Linked DNA regions of Homo sapiens. The protein of the gene in region 6 purifies or fractionates together with the protein of the main gene of each other region. This does not show direct contact. Each region holds a gene or a part of one and is shown on either strand. Other genes may lie near its edges. The genes, in order: ZBTB34, TAB1, KDM3B, MTFR2, MAP3K7 and TH.

The links.
Region 1: the proteins of TH (region 6) and ZBTB34 purify together in Homo sapiens (affinity purification with mass spectrometry; 2 studies listed by BioGRID and IntAct, with this or other methods). This does not show direct contact.
Region 2: the proteins of TH (region 6) and TAB1 purify together in Homo sapiens (affinity purification with mass spectrometry; one large-scale study listed by BioGRID and IntAct). This does not show direct contact.
Region 3: the proteins of TH (region 6) and KDM3B purify together in Homo sapiens (affinity purification with mass spectrometry; 2 studies listed by BioGRID and IntAct, with this or other methods). This does not show direct contact.
Region 4: the proteins of TH (region 6) and MTFR2 purify together in Homo sapiens (affinity purification with mass spectrometry; 2 studies listed by BioGRID and IntAct, with this or other methods). This does not show direct contact.
Region 5: the proteins of TH (region 6) and MAP3K7 purify together in Homo sapiens (affinity purification with mass spectrometry; 2 studies listed by BioGRID and IntAct, with this or other methods). This does not show direct contact.

Annotation. Positions count from the first base shown.
Region 1 is NC_000009.12:126,877,184-126,881,138, reverse strand, and holds part of ZBTB34 (zinc finger and BTB domain-containing protein 34), read right to left. Parts: intron 1,750-3,955; coding exon of another isoform or gene 1,740-1,749; coding exon 225-1,739; 3' UTR 1-224. UniProt on the Homo sapiens protein: May be a transcriptional repressor.
Region 2 is NC_000022.11:39,420,078-39,424,032, reverse strand, and holds part of TAB1 (TGF-beta-activated kinase 1 and MAP3K7-binding protein 1), read right to left. Parts: intron 2,207-3,955; coding exon 2,062-2,206; intron 1-2,061. UniProt on the Homo sapiens protein: Key adapter protein that plays an essential role in JNK and NF-kappa-B activation and proinflammatory cytokines production in response to stimulation with TLRs and cytokines.
Region 3 is NC_000005.10:138,418,576-138,422,530, reverse strand, and holds part of KDM3B (lysine-specific demethylase 3B), read right to left. Parts: intron 3,579-3,955; coding exon 3,299-3,578; intron 1,826-3,298; coding exon 1,569-1,825; intron 1-1,568. UniProt on the Homo sapiens protein: Histone demethylase that specifically demethylates 'Lys-9' of histone H3, thereby playing a central role in histone code. Demethylation of Lys residue generates formaldehyde and succinate. May have tumor suppressor activity.
Region 4 is NC_000006.12:136,233,191-136,237,145, forward strand, and holds part of MTFR2 (mitochondrial fission regulator 2), read right to left. Parts: intron 310-3,955; coding exon 135-309; intron 1-134. UniProt on the Homo sapiens protein: May play a role in mitochondrial aerobic respiration essentially in the testis. Can also promote mitochondrial fission.
Region 5 is NC_000006.12:90,548,869-90,552,823, forward strand, and holds part of MAP3K7 (mitogen-activated protein kinase kinase kinase 7), read right to left. Parts: intron 3,312-3,955; coding exon 3,181-3,311; intron 1,682-3,180; coding exon 1,600-1,681; intron 1-1,599. UniProt on the Homo sapiens protein: Serine/threonine kinase which acts as an essential component of the MAP kinase signal transduction pathway. Plays an important role in the cascades of cellular responses evoked by changes in the environment.
Region 6 is NC_000011.10:2,163,255-2,166,403, reverse strand, and holds the end of TH (tyrosine 3-monooxygenase), read left to right. Parts: intron 1-345; coding exon 346-402; intron 403-640; coding exon 641-736; intron 737-1,038; coding exon 1,039-1,172; intron 1,173-2,011; coding exon 2,012-2,171; 3' UTR 2,172-2,475; downstream 2,476-3,149. UniProt on the Homo sapiens protein: Catalyzes the conversion of L-tyrosine to L-dihydroxyphenylalanine (L-Dopa), the rate-limiting step in the biosynthesis of catecholamines, dopamine, noradrenaline, and adrenaline. Uses tetrahydrobiopterin and molecular oxygen to convert tyrosine to L-Dopa.

The DNA.
Region 1 (3,955 bases), on a different chromosome or scaffold from region 6:
CTGTGTTTTCCCTGGATGCGTTGCCCTTCATGCTTTGAGCTCCTTCGGGGAGGGAGGGCAGGGGAAAGGATAAACACAACGAAGTGTTCCATCCAGAAACTTTAGAAAAACTGCCAAGAGACCAAGAGATTTCCAGATGGTTGGGAAAACCAAAGATTACAACAAAGCAAATCACAAATATGCATTGATTAATGTGCTTTGTTTGGGTGCACTTCTTTACCATCTTAATCGGGAGCATCAGACACTGTGTGAATTTCCATCCGGGAATCTAGGCCCATCTCTGAGGCCGATGCGTCATTTTCTAGTTTCTGTTCCACGTACACATCTGTTCTCTCGGGGGACTCAATGCGACTCCTGACTTCAGCAACGCCTGGGTGGTTTTTCCGCAAGTGCTGGTTGAGGGTACCTTGGAATGGAAAGCACTTCCCGCAGATCTCACAGCGGAATGGTTTATCATCTGTATGGCCCCGGATGTGGTACTCCAGTTGGTCCTTCCGTGTGTACTTCTTCCCACAGAACTTGCACACAAAGGGGGTGATTCCCATATGGAGTCGCATGTGCCTATCAAGGCTTCCTTTCTGGTTGAAGGACTTTCCACAGTAAATACAGATCAACCTCTCATTGTACGGGTACCAATGCCCTCTCGCACTCCTCTCCCGGGGACTGCTCTCATACCCGGGGTTGTTCATCATGGCTTCACTGTCAGAGCCCTGCACCAGGCCCTGCAGGTCACTGTGCAGGTGGACAGACAAAGCCCGCTTCTGGCGGGCACGCCCTCCTCGGAAACAGCTCAGCATGGACCTGGATGGGCTGGAATTACTCAAACTTCCAAAAGCTTCTGATACATTGGTTGGCTGTGAGGCTGCTTGGGAATAGGAGTATGCGTGCTGGAGCACAGAACCATAGGAGCCCACATTCACTGCCACAACTTGTTCCCCATCAACCATCTCGGTGTGGTACCCATCGTCACCCAGGGAGGAGCTGTCGGAACAGCTGGGCCGGTCGGACTTCTCCATCTTCACTTTCACCTCGGTGATCTGGCTCTCCCTCACCAATAGGTCTCCTTGCTCATGGTCTCCCTCTATCTGAATCTCATATTCAGAAACGCTCCCACTGCTCCCGCGGTCTGAGTGCCCCTCCTCCTGTAAGCGGCTGCGCAAAGCTTTGCTGGGGGTCGTCTCCATCCGGAGGTCACTGCTTGCGGTGGGCTGCCGTCCCTGAGAGCAATATGGAGGAGAGATCTCCACTGGGTTGGCAAAGAAGCTGCTGTCTTTCACTCCGTTTCGACTCTCGGGATTCTCTTCAGCACCGACGGTAACAGAGTCAACATCTCCAACGCTGATTTTGGAATGGATGCTCTCTAGGATCTGCGTGCACTTGTCAATGACACACTGCATCTGAAGAAAGCTGGCTGCAGTCAGAAAACTGACAACATCCTTCAGCTGCAAGGACATTCTTCCAGTGTAACAAAAAGAAAGCAACTGCTCAAACACATTGGGATTTTTAATCACTGATATTGACAAGCCACTCATGGTACTTAACGCTGAATGGTCCCGGAAATATGGGGAGCTGGCAGCAAGGACTGCTTTGTGGGCTCGGAATGGCTGACCCTGAATGTGTACAATGATGTCACATAGTTTCCCCTGCAGGCGGAGTTCGTTTAGCTGGCTCAGAACGGTGCTGCTGTACTCGGGCACATCAAACTGAATAAAACTGCTGCTGTCCATTTCTACTGACATGAAGCGTACTCTGCGGAGAGAGAGAGTTTGCATCATTCACCAATGACTCCTCACTAAGTACAAGTGGCATAAACACAAGCTTACAACAACAATACCATTGTGGCTATCATACCTCCTAAAATCTACCTGAAGCATTCTTCCCCTTGTTTTAGTCTTTCATGTTTTGGTTAATTCACCTAAAGCCAAATAAACTAATGATCAATTAGCCTAATGTCATAATTGCCTAATATTCATCTTGATCAAAAGTAAAATATTTTACACATAGTAGGACTATTTTGGCTCTGACTGAGAAATTGGTCTCCTTTTAGGAAAAATATTTCCCCATTTCAAGTACTTTTGAGGGTTTGAAGTACTTTGTGAAAAATAACTAAATTCAGGCCAGGCGCAGTGGCTTACACCTATAATCCCAGCACTTTGGGAGGCTGAGGGAGGCGGATCACTTGAGGTCAGGAGTTTGAAACCAACCTGGCCAACATGGTAAAACCCCATCTGTACTAAAAATACAAAAATTAGCCTGGTGTGGTGTTGTGCACCTGTAATTCCAGCTACTTGGGAGGCTGCAGCAGGGGAATCGCTTGACCTCAGAAGGCAGAGGTTGCAGTGAGCCGAGAGCACACCACTGCATCCCAGCCTAGCGGACAGAGTGAGACTCCTTCTAAAAAAAAAAAAAAAACAAAACAAAAACAAAACTAAATTCATCTAAAAATGTTCTACCTTACTTGTGTATTTCTGATTGGTATTTTTCAACTCTGTAGCACACTGGATACAATAAATGGAGCTAAACCCTTTTCAGTATTATTGTCTTGATTTGTGTGTTTGCCCTTCAGCTCTGTACACCTTTATATCTCTTTTGGGTTGGGTTGCTTTGGCTGAGACTTACCATGCTCAGTCTCCTTCAGTGAAGAGTTATTATTACTTTTTTTTTTTTTTGAGACAGAATCTTGCTCTGTTGCACAGGCTGGAGTGCAGTGGCGTGATCTCGGCTCACTGAAACCTCCGCCTCCTAGGTTCAAGCAATTCTCATGCCTCAGCCTCCTGAATAGCTGGGATTACAGGCATGCGCTACCATGCCCAGTTAATTTTTGTATTTTTAGAAGAGACGGGATTTCACCATGTTGTCCAGGCTGGTCTCGAACTCCTGACCTCAGGTGATCTGCTCCCCTCGGCCTCCCAAAGTCCTGGGATTACAGGCAAGAGTCACCACACCGGCCTATTATTACTATTTTTTATTAGAGATGAGGTCTCATTATGTTGCCCAGGCTGGTCTTGAACTCCTGAGCTCGTGATCCTCCCACCTCAGCTTCCCAAAGTGCTAGGATTGCAAGTGTGAGCTGCCACACCCGACCAGTGAAGAGTTATTTTAGACAATATTTTATTTTATTTATTTTTATTTTATTTTTACAGATGGAGTCTCGCTCTGTCGTCCGGAGTGCAATGGCATGATCTTGGCTCACTGCAACATCTGCCTCCTGGGTTCAAGTGATCCTCCTGCCTCAGCCTCCTGAGTAGCTGGACTACAGGCGTGCACCACCACACCCAGCTAGTTTTTGTATTTTCAGTAGAGATGGGGTTTCACCATGTTAGCCAGGCTGGTCTCGAACTCCTGACCTCAAGTGATCTGCCTGCCACGGCCTCCCAAAGTGCTGAGATAACAGGCGTGAGCCACCGCGCTCTGCCAAGACAGTGTTTTTAAACAGTAGTTATTTTAGACAACAAGAGTGAAAGGGTGATGGACACATCAAAAGGAATCACCTTCTACTAGCGCTCACAGCTGCGGCACACCTACAACAGGTTTCCTTCCTGTGGCCTAAAATCTGCAGCGCCAGACTGCTCAGAACTACTTAAGTATATATAGCCCCGGCTCCATCCTCTGACAGAAACATAACAAAACCAGATCTAACAATTATATTTTAAAACCTGACCAACAGAAATGTAAACACCTCCTAAGTATTAGATCAGAAAAAAATCTAAATGGAATAAAACTACTTAGACAATGAGAAAACACGTAAAATCTGGGTTTAGGAGTGAAGTTTACTCATGTCTTCAACTTGAGAATGTATCTCCAAAAAAGAGATGGACAGATATGTGATAAAGCAAACACAGTAAAATGTTAACAATTGTAGAGTCTACATGGTGGATATCTGGGCACTTATTGTGAAATTTTCTCACCTTTTCTGTTTGAGGTTTTTCAAAATGAAATGTTGGGAGTTTCGAAA
Region 2 (3,955 bases), on a different chromosome or scaffold from region 6:
AACTTTAGAGACTCAAGGCGGGAGGATGGCAGTGGTGCTAGGGATAAAACACTATACATTAGTTACAATGTACACTATAAAACACTATACATTAGTTACAACGTACACTATAAAACACTATACATTAGTTACAATGTACACTATAAAACACTATACATTAGTTACAATGTACACTATAAAACACTATACATTAGTTACAATGTACACTATAAAACACTATACATTAGTTACAATGTACACTATAAAACACTATACATTACTTACAATGTACACTACTGGAATAACTGGTTTACTAAGATCTCAGAATTCACCACTACATAATTCATCCCTATAACAAAAAAATACTGGTACCTCAAAAGCTACTGAAATAAAAATTAATTTTCAAATTTTAAAGAAGACTTTTTCCTCATGATATTGATTGATTGATTGAGACAGAGTCTTGCTCTGTTGCTCAGGCTGGAGTGCAGTGGTGCGATCTTGGCTCACTGCAACCTCCACCTCCCGGGTTCAAGCGATTCTCCTGCCTCAGCCTCCTGAGTAGCTGGGATTACAGGTGCCTGCCACCACACCCGGCTAATTTTTGTATTTTTAGTAGAGACGGGGCTTCACCATGTTGGCCAGGCTGGTCTCGAACTCCTGACCTCAAGTGATCCGCCTGCCTCGGCTTCCCAAAGTCCTGGGATTACAAGCATGAGCCACTGTGCCCGGCCAATACATGATTTTTAATTAAAAAGGACAAAGCAGGCTGGGCACAGTGGCTCATGCCTACAATCCCAGCATCTTGGGAGGCCAAGGTAGGAGGATCACTTGAGACCAGGAGTTTGAGATTAACCTGGGCGATACAGTGAGACCCTGTCTCTACCAAAAAAACAAAACAAAGAAAACAACCAAAATTAGCCAGGTGTGGTGGCACACACCTATAGTTCCAGCTACTCAGGAGGCTAAGGCTGGAGGATCGGTTGAACCCAGAAGGTTGAGGGTGCAGTGACCCGTGATCACGCCACTGCACTCCAGTCTGGGTGACACAGCAAGTCTTAAAAAAAAAAAAAAAAAAGTCAAAGCAGAAAAGGTTATCTTCCTACAAGAATCACAGAAAGGAGGAGGAACACAAACTGAACTTATCTTAGCCAGTCAGCAATCCAAGGAGGTCAGGGAAAGACAGTTTTCCTTTGAGACCATCCCTAACGTGACTGTCTTGAAGTCACACTTTGGTGACTCCAAGGTATAAGAAAAATAAGCAACTCTTGGCTGAGGGCCTGTGTCTACCACGCCTAACCTCACTGCGATCTCACAAAGGCAGATGTTACCATCCTCACTGTAGAAATGAGAAGTGAACTGCCGGGCGCGGTGGCTCACGCCTGTAATCCCAGCACTTTGGGAGGCTGAGGTGGGTGGATCACAAGGTCAGGAGTTGGAGACCAGCCTGGTGAAACCCTGTCTCTACTAAAAATACAAAAATTAGCTGGGCGTGGTGGCAGACACCTGTAATCCCAGCTACTTGGGAGGCTGAGGCAGAGAACTGCTTGAACCCGGGAGGCGGAGATTGCAGTGAGCCGAGATCATGCCACTGTACTCTAGCCTGCGTGACAGAGGGAGACGCTGTCTCAAAAAAAAAAAAAAAAAAAAAAAAAAGAAATGAGAAGCAAACTATAAATTGTCTGCCACTCAGGGAGGGCAGTAAAGCCGTCAGGCCCTTGGCAGGAAGTGATGGGTGTGGGAAGGACTCTGCACATCTCTTTCTGTGCTCTCCTCCTGGCCCTGGCCCCTTCCTGGCCGTCTCAGAGTAATGCCGTGCCCATAGCAATTCACATCCATCTCCCCCTCTTCCCTTCAGACCTTGCTCAGGCCCTGAGGACTGGCACTGCTTCAAGCCTAAAATGAGTCAAGTTTTTGGGTGGGATGGGTGTTTTCAGAGCTCTGGGATTCTCCTTCCCCCAGCTTTGAACCCAGAGATGTCTGGTGACGGCCTCCGAGAATCACAGTGCTAGAAGGCAGGGTGAGCACATCACCATGCAGGCCAGCCACGCTCTCCGGCCATGGGCGTGGCTGGGCCCAACTCACCTGGTTGGCCTGCCCAGGCCCATGGGCTGCCTCTAGGGCCTTGTACAACCCCTCCGACATCAGCACCAAGAAGCCCGTCACCCCATCCAGCGGCTGTGCCCCATGGATTTCTGGCTCTGCGATGATTGGTTTGGACTTGGCAGCGCTATGGGGAGAGAGTGGAAGGAAGAGCTTTGCTTGGAACAGCCCGCAGGTGGATGCTGATTCTGCTGAGGGGAGGAATCTATGCCCAGAATGTAAAATAAAACACACAACCTGACAAGAGGAAAAGAAAAGAGAGAAAGAGAAGGTCAGAAAAATAGACCCATCGTCTTACAGCAGCTGCTAAAATAAAGCTTGGAAGGCCATAAAAACTGGCAGGCAGCTGAGGTCAGGATGGCAAAGGTTGAATGCCCGATTCTGGCCTGTTCCATACGTCCTGTTCACAGGGTCCGGTGGTGGCAGGGCAGGGTGTGGGACAGCAAGAGGGAGGGATTATCCCTGGGAGCCCAAGCCTCTTGCTATTATTTGGGCTTTTCCAAAACAGATGGCTGAGACCCCAGATACTCTCCATGTGTACAGGGATCCTTTAGTGACTGGGGTCAGAGTCATTACATGCCAACACATGTGTGTGCACATGGAGGTAAGTACATGAGGAGGTGCTGGCAACACCATCCAGAAGAGCGGAGTCTAAGAACTTCCTGAGGGTCCGTCAGCCAGGGCTGGGCCCTGGGAGCGGTTATTACACAGAATGACGCCATCCTAACTGCAGGTGAGCAGAATGAAGAGATGAGCACCTTTAATGATAGCAGTGAGGGGTGTGTAAACATATCTCCAAACTCATCAAGTTGTATGCATGAAATAGGCACAGCTTTGCATATGCCAATTACACCTTAGGGTTTAAAAAAAAAGAAAAGAAGGAGGAGCAGGACACACCAGCACCTGGGAGGGGCAGGACACACCAGCACCTGGGAGGGGCAGGACACACCAGCACCTGGGAGGGGCAGGACACACCAGCACCTGGGTGTTCCGAAAAGGATGCAGGCTCCTTGGCCCCCAGGACAAACACACACACACACACACACACACACACACACACACACACACACAGAGAGAGACACCCCAGCACCTGGGTGTTCCGAAAAGGATGCAGGCTCCTTGGCCCCCAGGACAAACACACACACACACACACACACACACACACACACACACACACAGAGACACCGTGTGTGTATATGTGCATGTGGCCAGATTTTGGAACAGGATACACAAGAAACTAGCAGCCTCTGGGGAGGCAGCGAGTCCTAGAGTGTGGTGTAGGAAGACTTCCTTTCCCTGTATAGACCCCAGCACTGTCTGAAGTGTTTTAAACTATGGATGTCCTTTCCAATAAAGGAAACAGGACCCCACAAATTAGGGACAAATATTCGACACTCAGTTGCCTAGATCGCGTGAGGGCAAGGAGTTCTAACATGCACTTTCTAGGCCATGAGGCCTCTGTTGATGGGAACTCTGGCTTTGGGAACAGCCTTGGCCATGACATTAAATGCCATGATTGGCATCAGGCAAGTGGACGCGCCTATCTCCCCAACCAACACTTCACATACAGGTTACCTGACGGTTAAGGACACATATTCCAAATTCAGGCTGCCTGTGTTCAAGCCCCATGACCAGGGTGGGCTGCCTGATGTCTCCATGCCTCAGTTTCCTCTTATGAAAATGCCTCTGGGGTGATGGCAGTGACTGCCTCAGGGGGCCTGAGTAGGGAATGCATAAAAGAAGGTACATCCAGAGCTCTGCACGGGCTTGGCCGTGTGATGATGACTGCCCATTCTGCTGCCATGAGCGCTGGGGTGATGTCCAGAGGAGGTGTCCTCAGAGGGAAATACACAATTCATCTCACACCTCTGCTGCA
Region 3 (3,955 bases), on a different chromosome or scaffold from region 6:
GTAGCTGGGATTATAAGCATGTGCCATCATGCCTGGCTAATTTTTGTAGTTTTTTAGAAAGAGTCAGGATTTTGCTACGTTGGTCAGGTTAGTCTCGAACTCCTGACCTCAAGTGATCTGTCCGCCTCAGCCTCCCAAAGTGCTGGGATTACAGGTGTGAGCCACTGTGCCCAGCCTCTTTTCTATCTTTTAGATATTGTACCTTATGAATTCATTCATTCAATAAATGCTTACTAAACATGACTGGATCAAACACCATGGCACTAGGGATATATTATAGAACAGTCAAAAATGCCTTTAGGAGAGGCAAGAAACAGAAAATCAAACATGTAATAGGTCAGATGGTAATGAGTGCTGTGAAAAAAACAAAGCAGGGAAAATCGGTATGTGCAGAACTGACAGTGTGATGGAATTTTAAAAAGGGTGATGTATGAAGAAAGGGTTACTGAAGGTTTAGGTGAGGGAGCTGATGATGAAGCAAGTGAGGTAGTTACATGGGAAAGAAATTCTAGGTGGAGGAAATAACAAGTGCAAAGGCCCTGAAGAGGGAGCATGCCAGGCCATGTTCAAAGAACAGCAAGAAGGTGGGTGTGGCTGGAACGGAGTGAACAGAACAGAGAGTGGTAGTTGAAGACAGGGAGGTGAGAGCAAGATGAACAGATAGGGCTATGGCCTCATAGTCCAGGTGCGTGACTCTACTCATCTGTAAGCACTACAAGGACTCTGCTCATCTTACGAGAGAAAAAGGAAGCCCTTGAAGGATTTCAGGCAGAGGTTAAGATATGATCTGACTTATATTTTATTATTTTTCTCCTTTTCTTTTATTTTTCTTTATTTCTTAATAAAAAGCCTCCCATGGGATGACATATTTTAAAAGAACCTCTCTAGCTACTGTGTTGAAAATACACTGTAGACTGTAAAGGGCAGAAACAAGGGGACCTGTAAGGAATTTATTGCAAAAACTTAGGCAAGATGTTGGCTCAGAACAGAGGAAGCAACAGAGCTGATGAAAAATGAGTGGATTCTGAATATAGTTTGAAGATCAAATTTGAAAGGATTTGCTAACAAATTAGATATGAAAGGTAAGACAGGCGAGTCCCAAATGATTCTAAGATTTCTGGTGCAAGCAATCACAAGGGCAGAGATGCCACCAACCAGTAGGGGAAAACTAAGGAGAAGCAAGCTTATGGTCAGAAGATCAGGAGTTCAGGCTTAGGCGCATTAAAGGTTTGAGACATCTATTAGATATCCAAGAGAATACAATACAAATGTACTGTCCAGGTTAAAAAAAAATTAATGCCTGCTATTATCAAGAAAAACAAGCAATCAATGTATTAACTTTTCTGCTGATGACCGAAACATTTCAAAATCTCAACTTTTACAGACTTCCTAACATGGTACAAAAGGTTCACTACTTAAAAAGATTCCCAAAACTTTAAAGAGAGACCTTGTCAGCTTGACAATGTAGAGAACACAAATCACCCATGTACCCTCTAACCCAATTATCTGATCTCTGATGGTTCTTTCATGGAAAAGCTGAAAAGGCTACAGTTGCAGAGGACACTTACTGCTGAGGATGTAGAGAAGACCGGGGGAAAGGGTATGCCTGTGTCCAAGGGGGTTTGAGGAAGTTTTCCCGGCCCGGAGTGAAGGAGGTCTCGAAGGCTAGACCCTTCGGTTTTGTTGTTGGAGGCAGTGGGACCCAGCAACAGACTGTTAAAAAGCTTTGGAGTCAGCGGAGAGACCTTTGCAGTGGAGTTGAACGAGTCCAGCCCAAAGGGTGAATGAGACTCTTTATTGAGCACCGACCTCAGGGACCCTGCTTCTGTAAGAACATAACCAGGAACAGCATTAGGTACAAAAAGGAATAATCAGCACACAACTGACTCCTAAAAATCAGTCACATGGGAAGGAGGAAAGATTCTCTCCTTTCCCTTGCACCCCCCAAACTGTGTATGGTTTGTTTGGGTCAAGCCTTACAAGCTATAATTATAGGAGGTCTCACAGCCAAGGAGAAACTCTCCTACTACTTCTTTACCAGATCTGAATTTCAAACTCCCTTTTGTTGTCATCCATCTTTCATCTCCCTCACTTCCTAAGACAGTGTTTCAAGTGTATCTTCAGGATACCTGTACTGAAGTCACTTGGAGTGCTTGTTAAAAATGGAGATCTTTACCCCCAGAGATTCTGATTTCATAGTTCTGGGCGGGACACAGGAATCTGCATTTTTAACCATTCCCCAGATGATTCTTGTGCCCAGTGAAAACTTCTGCTCTAAGTCTAGCTCTCAACCCTGGCTGCATAACAGAACCATCTCAGAAGCTTGTTAAAAGTCTTGTATATGGCTGGGAATGGTGGCTCACGCCTATAATCCCAGCACTTTGGGAGGCCGAGGCAGGTGTATCACTTGAGGTCGGGAGTTTGAGACCAGCCTGACCAACATGGAGAAACCTCGTCTCTATTAAAAATACAAAAAAATTAGCTGGGCGTGGTGGCACATGCCTGTAATCCCAGCTACTTGGGAGGCTGAGGCAGGAGAATCACTTGAACCTGGGAGACGGAGGTTGCAGTGAGCCAAGATCGCGCCACTGCACTCCAGCCGGAACTCCAGGCAACAAGAGCAAAACTCCGTCTCAAAACAAACAAACAAAAAAAACCCCTTGTATAAATTCTGACTAGAGATCCAGGGTAGGGCCCAGGCATCTGCCTTTTTAGAGAAGTTCCACTTCTAGAAAGAAGTTGAAAGGTAGTCCCTCATATATATGTGTGTGTGTGTGTGTGTGTGTGTGTGTGTGTGTGTGTATGTGTGTGTATATATATGTGTGTGTGTATATATATATGTATATATATATATATATATATTTTTTTTTTTTTTTTTGAGACAGAGTCTTGCTGTTACCCAGGCTGGAGTGCAGTGGCATGATCTTGGCTCACTGCAGGCTGTGCCCCCCAGGTTCATGCCATTCTCCTGCCTCAGCCTCCCAAGTAGCTGGGACTACAGGCACCCGCCACCTCGCCCAGCTAATTTTTTTGTATTTTTAGTAGAGACGGGGTTTCACCATGTTAGCCAGGATGGTCTTGATCTCCTGACCTCGCGATCTGCCCGCCTTGCCTCCCAAAGTGCTGGGATTACACGCGTGAGCCACCACGCCAGGCCCCGGCAGTCCCTCATGTGATTAGCCAGAGAAAGTAAGTAGCATGTTTCATAAATGTGGATGGTAATGTGTGAGTTCAAAGAATCCTGGAAAAAACTCATGATTTCTACCATAGGCAGAGCAGAGGTTTGTGTGCATCTCACCTTTTGTTTCTTCTTTAGCCTTCTGAGTTGCTAAATCTGCCAACCAGTGCAGGGCGGAGGAGGGTGGGGCCGTGTCAGGGCAAGGAGGCCTGATGGCTTTCAGTTCACTATTGCTATTTGATGCCGAACTGTCTGTTTTCAGAGGCTCTTCAGATCTGATGTCAGTGCTGTCGGCTTTGGGAACATGGTCCGGCTCTGGAGTTGTTACTGGTGCCGGTCCTCCTCCACCAGAGAAGGTAGTTTCGTTTCCAGAAGAGGCACTAGGGTTTATGCTAGGAAGCTAAAATGCAGAAGGCCAACATAATTAGAGTGCTGTGCTTGGGTAGAAAAAAATACAACTAGTAATGGCTTCACATACTAAATAGGTCTGGGAAGAATAATCTGTCATGTAAACTGGCATTTCATACATTATTTAATTCAACATATATTTATTGAGTCCTACAACATGCCAGAAACCAGGCTAGCTTCTGTGGAAAGATCAGTGAACAAGGCTTGAAGTTTGTAATCTAAAATAGTTAGCATGCCTGACACAATTTCTGCAATGGTGAATTGGTAATTTAAATGACCTCGTAGTGCTGTTCTTAGGATTACATAAAATAGCATATGCAAAGGGCTTAGCATAGTTCTGACACAGATAAATGCTAAATAAATGTTTAT
Region 4 (3,955 bases), on a different chromosome or scaffold from region 6:
CATTAGCAGCATCAATAAACAATTATATAGCCCATTCTGCACAATTACTTCAAGAGAACTTGAACACAAAGCTGTAACATAAACAACACATCTGAGAAAAACTGAAAAATTAATTTTACATTAGTGTAGCTTACCCTTGAAGTTTCTGGACTAGAAAATGGGGAAGATTCCCAAGATCTATTCTCTTTCTCAAAAGAATCATCTTCTTGAAATGCAAATTTCTGTTTAAGTGCATGAGATATTAAAGAAACTGGATCCCAATGTGAATTCTGTCTTTTCCTCTTATGAATGGGTCTACCGCCAGGTGACCTATTTTTTAAAAAAAAAAATTGAATTTATTAAAACTTGGATGTAATTTTAGCTCCTTGTTGACAAACATGGCAGGAATACAAGCATATCTTACAATTTAATTAGTCTTCAAGAGATTGAAAATAATCTAATCTTCAAGAAATTTTCGCAATGAAATAAGGAAGGCACAATGAATGAAGAATCAGAAAACCAAGAACCCATGTGACTTGAGACTCTGCCATAACCTTGTTATGACCTGAGATTTGTCAGATGTCACTATGCTGAAGATCTTTATTATGGTAATTTTCTAATTTCCTAATGGGTAGGAAAATTCAAATAAATAAGAACTTTTAAAAGGACGAGAGTTCATGCCAAAAAAAAAAAAATTACGCAAATTGTTCATTTGTTTGGTTGTTCATTCATTTAATCTTCATTGAATGCCCACTACCACATCCGACTCCATTTTATGCTTTGGGAGTATTCTGCTCCCAATTCTTACAGCAAGATTATCATCAATATACAAGTAAGATCATTTGGCTGGTAATAAGAGCTGTGAATAAAACAAAACAGAGGCTGGGCACGGTAGCTCATGCCTATAATCCCAGCACTTTAGGAGGCCAAGGTGGGAGGACTGCCTGAGCCCAGGAGTTCGAGAGCAGCTTGGGTAACATAGCGAGACCCCATCTCTAGAAAAAATTTAAAAATTAGCCAGGCAACTACTTGGGAGGTTAAGGCAGGAGGATCACTTGAGCCAAGGAGGTCAAGCCTGCAGCAAGTCATGGCACCACTACACTCCAGCCTGGGTGACAGAGCAACACCCTGTCTCAAAAAAAAAAAAAAAAAACTAAATTAAAAAATAAAAAATAGGGAAATGTAATAGTGATTAGGGACAGAAGCACTTTAGATATGATCAGAAAAAAAGCCTCTTTAAGGAAGCAACATCCTCTTTAAGAAAATGACAAGGGGTCAGTTTTAGTGTAAACATCTGGGGCTGCATCAGGAAGGAGCTTGGCATGTGTGAGAAACGGAAAAAAGAAAGCAACTGCAGCTGGAGTGCAGTGGGCAAACATGGGGCATAGGAGAGGAGCTCAGCGAGAGAAGTGAGGGCTGGCTCCTGGAGGGGCCTACGGACACAGCAAGGGCTCTAGAACTGATTCAAGCACAACGGAAACCCACAGAAGAGTCTGAAGCAGGAGAATGGCCTGATCTGACTTCTGGTCACTATCTGCAGAATAAATAAGGAGGCAAGAATGAAAACAGATCACTGAGGAGGCTGCTGCGGAAGTCTAAGCTAGATAAGAATGGGCTTAGCCTGGGGAGTTGGCAGTGGAGGTCAAGAGGTCCACAGAATTGAGCTATGTGCTGATGGGAACGGTGGGAGATAGAATGGAAAATAAAGATGAAGGATGATTCCTAGATATTTGTTTTTGTTTTTTTGAGACGGAGTCTCGCTTTGTCACCAAGGCTGGAGTATAGTGGCTCACTGCAACCTCCGCCTCCCGGGCTCAAACAATTAATTCTCCTGCCTCAGCCTCCTAGTAGCTGGGATTACAGGTGTGCGCCATCATGTCAGGGTAATTTTTGTATTTTTAGTAGAGACTGGGTTTCACCATGTTGGCCAGGCTGGTCTCGAACTCCTGACCTCGAGTGATCTGCCCACCTCAGCCTCTCAAAGTGCTGTGTTTACTGGTGTGAGCCACCGCACCTGGCCTGATTCCTAGATCTTAAGCAACCGGGTGATCGTGTTGCCATTTGCTAATATGCAAAAGACGTGGGAAAGAACAGGTTTTCAAGGTGGCGGAAAAGAACAGGTAGGAAGGAAAAGTCCTGTTTTGGACCTGTGAAACGAGATACCTGTGAGACAGGCAAATAAAGATGTCAAGTAGGCATTTCAGTATGTGCATCTGGGCTCAAGAGGAGAGGTCAGGGCTAGAAAAATAAACGTTTGAGTCATAAGCATACAGCTGGTATTTAGAGTCATAGGACTAGGTGAGCTCACCAAAGGAAACAGCATGGACAGAGAAGAGAGGGGGCTGAGGTCTGAACCAGGTATTTCAACATTTAAAGACCAGGCCCAGGGGGAAGAGTTTAAGGAATAAGAAGGAATAGCTGATGAGGTCAGAGGAAACCTGGGGGTATGCTTTCCCAGAAACCAAGTAAAGAAAGTGCTCCAGGCTAGGCGCAGTGGCTCATGCCTGTAATCCCAGCACTTTGGGAGGCCAAGGTGGTCGGATCATGCGGTCAAGAGATCGAGACCATCCTGGCCAATACGGTGAAACCCTATCTCTACTAAAAATACAAAAATTAGCTGAGCATGGTGGCACATGCCTGTAGTCCCAGCTACTCGGGAGGCCGAGGCAGGAGAATCACTTGAATCCAGGAGGCAGAGGTTGCAGTGAGCCGAGATCACGCCACTGCACTCCAGCCTGGCAACAGAGCGAGACTCCGTCTCAAAAAAAAAAAGAAAGTGCTCCAAGGAGGTGGGGACCATAGGCTGTATCAAATGCTGCCAAGAGGTCAACTAAGACGAGCAATGCTAAGAGACCAGTGGATTTAGCCACATGGAGTCACTGGTGAAGCAGTTTTCAATGGAGTTTTCATGGGTAGAAGGCAGCAGCGATAGACAGAAACAAATTATAGACGACTTCAAGAATTCATATCAGAAAGGGGAGCAGAACAACAGAACAACGGCTGAGAGTACATGTGTTTTGAAGGTGGGAAGTACTCAGGTGTGAGGAGAAGGATGAAGTATAGAAGGAAGACTCAGTGATGCAGAAGGGCTCATTTTAAGTGAAATCCTTGTGAAGAGGAAAGAGAAGGGAAACCAGTAACCAAAGGAAGAGCCTGGCCATGAATGATGACACTTGGCTCCCAACAGCAAGATGGAAGGCAGAGAATCTGCACGGGGAATCTGTAGGTGTAAAGAGGTGAGAGAGCTCATCTGATTCCTCAGCAACGTACAAAACAAAGTTAGCTGTAGAGGCAACTCAGGAGAGAATAGGGGGACAGGAGGCAGAGGCTACTGGCCTTTTAGTTGTTTTTCCAGTGATGGTAACAGTCACAGAGTTGCCACTTGATACTAAGCCCGACAACACAAGTACAAGATCTAGTTGGGACCAAGCATGCACCTACAGCCATGAGATTCTTCTCAACAAGCTGCCTCATGCTCTTCCTGTGGTTACTGGTTTCCCTTCTCTTTCCTCTTCACAAGGATTTCACTTAAAATGAGCCCTTCTGCATCGTTGCAAGGATCAAACTCACAACCTCATTAAAAACAGAACTGACTTATCTGTCCCAGGACTATCATACAGAAAATATATCTATTTTCTCACCGAAAACCTCACTGAGGGATTTCCAAGTAAGCATGGCAAATCCCTTGTGAAATCCTACTAAAATGACAGTAAAGAAATGAAAAAGATCTATATATCCACAAGGACAAAGAGATTAGAAGGGGAGACAGGAGATAAGAATTGCAACCAGATGCCGGAAGCTGGAAAGCTGATGAAAGTGAGAGCATGGGGCGTGGGCGCCCTGCTGAACACAGGGCGTGTGCTAAATAAGACACTTCTCTCTTGCTCCTCTTTCCCCACTCAGCTCTCCAATGACCTGACTTGCACCCGCTGTGTAATCCCCATCCCTCCTGACCACAAGGGAGAATGAAGAACTT
Region 5 (3,955 bases), on a different chromosome or scaffold from region 6:
CTGAGAGTCAAGATGAGAAATGAAAATGATTCCTTAAATGTAGTGATGTAGAGATAACTAGTGACCTTGACAAGAACAATTCTGAAGTACTGGCATAATACGTCTGAATGGAGTCAGCTCAAGAAAGAAGGGGAAAAGAGAAGCTAGTGAATGCAAATACAGACTACGTATGTTTTAGGAATGATCCAGTAGAAAGCTAAAACTGATGATGCAAGAGACAGGGGAGAATTGCTCAGAGGAGCAGATGGGATATAATGCACAGGCAGAAAGGTACACCTTTGGCCAGAAGTATGGATAGTTTAGCCAGAGTAACAGAAGAAAGCAGAGTAGATGGGCACAGATGTTGTGGAAGCTGTCTTCCGATTACTCCAATTTTCTCAGAGAAAGAGCAAACAAGATCAGCTGAGAGTGAGGAGTGGCGAGGAGGTGTTTGAAGTCTGAGGAGAGGCTACAGTATAAAATTAAGACATATAGGAGGAAAGAGATGAACTACAATACAGTACAACTGTCCAATAGCACTAAACATGCACGTGAGGATAGTAAACCTGTGCTATCTCCAGCCACACTCAGCTGCATTGGTACAGGCAAGGAGTAAGCCGAGTGTCAGCTTTCATTAGGCTTGTGGTTTAGCCAAGCAAGCTTGAGAGAGAGGCTAGAAAGATGAAAATTATTCCCAAAAGAATTATAATAGTTGATTGGAATTAAGTGGAGGGAGAAAGAAAAAAGGACCTAAGAGGACTGAGGACCAGTGAAAAGGTGGGAGGCTCAAAAAATTCAAGGTCACAGTAAGGAAATGAAGAGAGAGTTTAGAGGACGTGGGAGACACAAATGATAGAATTTTAGAGAAGTACATTTTAGAATTCAGAGCAACTCAAAATATTTTCAGTAAAACTGGAATTTGAGAATAACTAGCCAAGCAGTAACCATCTTAAAATAAATAAAACTATTCTTGAGGTGGGAGAAATAGATCAGTAAAAGTATTTTTCAATAAATGCAGGGTAAATACATGTGCATATAGACACACACATATCTTTAAGTTTCAATTAATAATGAAATGCTTATAATGCCACTATATTTTGAGAAGTACAATATTTCTAAGTTACAGTATTATTTCTACTATCTTTTTGATGACCACAAATTACATGTCCCACTACTACTTCACATTTCGGAAAACTAAGGAACTTTTAACATAGCTTCTTAAATCAGAGCCTCTGTAGAAGAGAACAAAAACTAGGGTGTTCGTGATGAAGAAATGTTTAAATACATTTACAATAATTTCTAATACTACTTGATCTAGTAGTATGCATGTAAAAGTGATTTTTCAAGTTAAGAATGACATTCACTGTAATACAATATGCCATCTTTTTATTCATAATTATGTAGGAATTCTAAGACTTGGAAGCAGGTCTTCAATAACTCTTTAATCAGGGTACCTACATGAAGAATGACGCACCTGTAAACTCAAATTGCAGTCAATCATATGAAATGAAGGAATTAAAATGCAAATGGGGACATTATTCATTACTTCTTGATTATAATTTCATGGGAATAGAGATGAAAGAAAAATCAAGTCAATACTCTTCCAATCTATCCATTTACCTGTACTGGTGGCAGAGTTGCTCTGTCCTTCATCTGAATACTGACAAGGATACTGTAATGGCTCATCTGCTCCTGGAAAGTACTATATATAAAAAAGTAAACCACAGCTTAAAATTTCCTTAATACAAATTAAATCCTGATTAATGTTTTATTTTCCCTAAGTTATATACTAAATTTGTAGGTGCCTAAGTTTTTTATTTTACAAAGATTACAATAATGTACTCTTGGATTTCAACTTTGATCAATGCCATGCACCTACCTAAGAATCTAGCTTACATTGGAGTCTAGATAGTCTTGAAGAAAACAGCAAATATTTCTCTAGAGAAACATATGAAATAAAATAGTATCATTTCTCATAATTATGTAAAACATACTCATGTTCTTACAGTAGTGATGTAAACTTCCAGTGACTGTTAGTCTGAAGACTGAGACTAGTATACCATAGAATAATTGTTAGAACATTTTAAATATTAAGAGGATAGATTATGAATGTCTTTCTACAAACTGGAGGCATAATACTCAAAGTATCTGCTGGACAAAAATGTTAGAATTTAGAGAAAAAAAGGAAACGTATTCTCCTCAAATTAGACAAGGAACAGAGAAGCAAAATTACAACTGCAATAACTTATATATCCTAAAGTTTTAAGTAATCTGACTACAGAGACTAAGTTGTTTTCTTATGCACACACCTTTAAGGCCTAGGCTTCTATATATGACTGGTATCCAAATACGATGGTAAACTTTTAGTAGATTAGTTCAAGCTGCTTTGCGTAAGAAATTTTCAATAGATTGAATAAACAACGTTTTACCATTTAGGAAATTACTTAGTCTATATTTAAGGAGATTGTAAGATTCTTCTACTGAACAAACTGTTTCAAAATTCAGGCACTTTCATAGATATTTGAACTTTTTAAAGCCAAGATACCACTTCACAGTTTTTGTTAATGTACCAAAAACCAGAGGCGTAAAATATTCCAAATAATTCTAAAGGCGCTTGATTCACAGACTAGGAAAATTTGATAATCATTTAAAAGGGTTCTTCTAAATAGAAGAAAGTTTAACTTTTTACTGGGATATAAAAACCTGAAAATAGGCCAAATAGTAAAAGTCACTCAAATAAATGTGTCTGAGAATGCAACCTATTGCCTTGCATAAATGACTAAATGCTTGATGAAAATTGGTATCAGAAAAATGTAAAATTTAGTTTATCATGTATTGAAGTCATAATATTAATATATCCAAGTCCTGTGATGGCTTTAGAGACTATCTATTTCAGTTTCTCCCACATTACAAATGAGGCAACAGGCCCAGAGACAAACATACTTGTCCACTAATGTAAGCAAAAAGAAAAAAGCAAGTCTAGAAACCTAGTCTAGCCATCTTTCCAGTGATAAAGAACTAGATTTTCCCTCTCGAAATGTTTCCTCTTCTGACTATGAGTAATAAATGCCCATTCTCACTTAGAAAACATAGCAATATATAAAGCAGAATATAGTAATAACATCCCTTTTAAAATTCCATTAAAACTCAGCACATATTAAATTCCCCTAAATCCAAAGCCCCTCAAAAGAAGGATTATACCCGCATCAAGTGAGTCATTATTTTCACAATTTCCTCCATTGAAGGGCGCTGGGAAGGATCTTTAGACCAACAACGAGTCATCAGGCTCTCAATGGGCTTAGGTAAATTTTTTATCAGTGGTGGTCGAGTACCTACAATTGAAAATGAGAGGAAGGGGGGAAGAATGTATTTACCCAAAGAATGATGCAAACTCTTTGTACGTATTTCCAAAGTGGTATTTATTTTATAGATCTTGTAGTTTAAGATCTGTAATTTGGAGTAATAAAAGTGCTTTGTAATTTTATCAATTAACAAGTTAGTTCTTTTACTCTTTACTTCACGGACGTTCAATTATTTACTGACAACTGATAGAAAGCAAGCAAGCAAGCTGTCCTGGTCAATGCTGAACAGTCTCCACAATGATACTAATGGTAGTAATATTAAAGGCAGTATAGGAAACTGGTAAAAACAGCTAAGATTACTCAGATGATGGTACTGTTTGATAAATCTATGAATGACCTAAATAATTAGGCAGACATTTGTTTTTAGACTTGTGGAATAATGTAAAAAATGGCCATTAGTCACATGATTATAAACAAGGCATAGAAATGAAATAACTAAGAGTGGCGCTAAAATTAAGAAGGTAAGTAATTTTCCTTCATGAAAAGCTATTTTCCCAAGCAAATGTAAAGTAACTTTACTAATGAAGAGGATGCATTCTAACATCATATGTGGTTAAAAACAACATTACCAGAACTATAAAAGAAACAGGACAGATGCAAGGACATTGAGTCCA
Region 6 (3,149 bases):
CGGGTGGGTGAAGTGTGCTGCCTGCTCCCGGGCCCCGCCAAGGAGGCTCGGCGCCCCGAGGGTCGCGCGGCATAGGGCGGGGCTGGAGCGGAGCCTCCCACGGCCTGTGCTGCCACCTGCCGGCTACCTGGGAACGGCGCCCACGGGCTTAGGAATGTGGTCAAGGAGGGCTGCCTGGAGGAGGAGGCCCGGTGGAGGTGCGGATCCTGGGCGGCCAGGGAAGGTCTCTGCCGCCAGGGAAGTGTCCCAGAGACCCCTGGAGGGGCTGCTGACACCCCCGGTGCCCCCACCTCGAGCATGACCCAGGGCTGCCTCTCCCCATCCTTCATCCTCCCTGCTCCACAGGACATTGGCCTGGCGTCCCTGGGGGCCTCGGATGAGGAAATTGAGAAGCTGTCCACGGTGGGTTGACCCCTCCCTGCAGGGCCTGGGGTGTGGGTTTGGGGGTCTGAATCCAGGCCTCACCCTCTTGCCGTCCAGGCTGAGGCCTCTCCTTCCACCCACGAATTGTGACCCTCACCCTGGCCTGCCTGCATCCTGGCCTGGCCTCCCTGGGGGTGGTATCCTGGTCACGGGTGACCAGGGGCTGCCCGGTGGGCGGCAGCTGTCTCTGGGCTGATGCTGCCCGGCTTCCCCGCAGCTGTACTGGTTCACGGTGGAGTTCGGGCTGTGTAAGCAGAACGGGGAGGTGAAGGCCTATGGTGCCGGGCTGCTGTCCTCCTACGGGGAGCTCCTGGTGAGAGTCTCTCCTTGCTGCAGCCCCCAGCAGAGGGGCAGGGCTGGGGGACGGTGCAGGGAGGGGACAGGCTCCCAGTGGGAGGAAACTGAGGCCTGGACCTCCAGGACTCAGGCTCTGTTTGGGAGAAGGCTTGTCTCTGCCCAGTCCTCACCCCACATTATCCCAGGCCTCCGAAGGCCCGGCGGGGGAGATGGGGGTGACTCTACCCAAGGAACCCACCCAGCGTCAGGCCACGGTGCCCCAGTTCCCTCGGGGACCTGGGTGCAGTGGAGTCAGTGATGCCATTGGCCTCCTGCCAGCACTGCCTGTCTGAGGAGCCTGAGATTCGGGCCTTCGACCCTGAGGCTGCGGCCGTGCAGCCCTACCAAGACCAGACGTACCAGTCAGTCTACTTCGTGTCTGAGAGCTTCAGTGACGCCAAGGACAAGCTCAGGTGGGCTAGGCTGCTAGGGCAAGCCCCCCATGGTGCCCCCAAACTGGGCCAGCCAGGCCTTCCTTCTGGCCTTGAGCAGGGCTGGACCTGTGAGCCCAGGTCACAGATGAGAAAACCGACCCCTGGTTGCAGCAGCCCCCACACAGCAGGGACACCATCCGTGAGAAGGACCCCAGCGTCTGGGGAGGGGCAGACCTACAGGACTGGGGGCTGCTGGGTGGCCGGGTCAAGGCCAGTCTTGGAGGTGCTGACAGAGCCTGAGCTTTGTGAGGACGTCCTGTGGAACCTGTCCCGGCCCCCTGCCCTGGGATGGGGAGAAGTCAGGGGGATAGACAGAGTCAAGGTGGGGGACAGGGCGGGAGTGGGGTCCCCAGGGCTGGGGGCCTTTGGTGCAGTGACCAGAGTGTCAGGAGAGGGGAGCAAAGCCCTCTAGCCTCATCCTCATAAAAGGTCTCATCATTTTCCCTCCAGCCTCTTATGCACTGGGGAAACTGAGGCCAGGGGCTATGTGTCCAGCGGACAGGGGTGCTGAATTCCACCCACAGGCTTAGGGATATGGTCAAGGAAAGCTTCCTGGAGGAGGCCCAGTGGAGGTTCAGGGAGGGATGGGGTGCCCGGCAGTCTCTAGTGGAAAAGGCGCCTAGCCTATCTCCCCCATGAACCCCCTCACCCAGCCCTGGAAGAGGCCTCAGTGTCCCGCCTGTGACCAGTTGGCTCAGAAAAGCCCTGGGAGCTCTGAGCCACTGTGAAGGTGGAAACGCGGCCCCTGGCCTCCCCTCTCCTGGAGGCTGCAGACTCTGCCCGCCAGTTGACGAGGGCTCTGCCGCTCTCCTCCCCAGGAGCTATGCCTCACGCATCCAGCGCCCCTTCTCCGTGAAGTTCGACCCGTACACGCTGGCCATCGACGTGCTGGACAGCCCCCAGGCCGTGCGGCGCTCCCTGGAGGGTGTCCAGGATGAGCTGGACACCCTTGCCCATGCGCTGAGTGCCATTGGCTAGGTGCACGGCGTCCCTGAGGGCCCTTCCCAACCTCCCCTGGTCCTGCACTGTCCCGGAGCTCAGGCCCTGGTGAGGGGCTGGGTCCCGGGTGCCCCCCATGCCCTCCCTGCTGCCAGGCTCCCACTGCCCCTGCACCTGCTTCTCAGCGCAACAGCTGTGTGTGCCCGTGGTGAGGTTGTGCTGCCTGTGGTGAGGTCCTGTCCTGGCTCCCAGGGTCCTGGGGGCTGCTGCACTGCCCTCCGCCCTTCCCTGACACTGTCTGCTGCCCCAATCACCGTCACAATAAAAGAAACTGTGGTCTCTACACCTGCCTGGCCCCACATCTGTGCCACAGAGACAGACCCTGGGATCCTCAGACTCCCACACCCCCACCCCAGCCTCACTCAGAGGTTTCGCCCTGGCCTCCTTCCTCCTCTGGGAGATGGCTGGCCGCCCTGGCCAGGCAGCTGGCCCCTCCGGGCCTGGTTTCCCCGCTCACCCTGAGGCCCCGCCCAGCTCTGAGCCCCAAGCAGCTCCAGAGGCTCGGGCACCCTGGCCGAGCTGCCCCATCTCCGTGGGGTGCCCTCCCAAGGTGGGGAGCCACGTGACAGTGGGAGGGCCTCTCTCAGGCCTGGCAGGGAGCAGGGGTCACAAACTGTGCTGGCTGGGGGTGGTCTCAGAGGTGGGCCTGCAGGCCTAACCCTCCCTGCTGACAGGGCTCCCAGCCCTTGAGAGAAACAGGGATGGAGGAACAGCTGCCCTGATGCCCTCACCCACCCGGAGCAGGCCCTGCGAACCAAGGGGAACCTCAGTGTGGCCCCCAGCATGTGTGCTGATGGGGAGGGTCTGGCTGAGCTGGTGCCCAGGCAGATGGTCTGGGCCTGTCTCCCCAGCGAGGCAGGATGGGGGCTGGATTTCAGACTCTGTAAGATGCCCCTGGCTTACTCGAGGGGCCTGGACATTGCCCTCCAGAGAGAGCACCCAACACCCTCCAGGCTT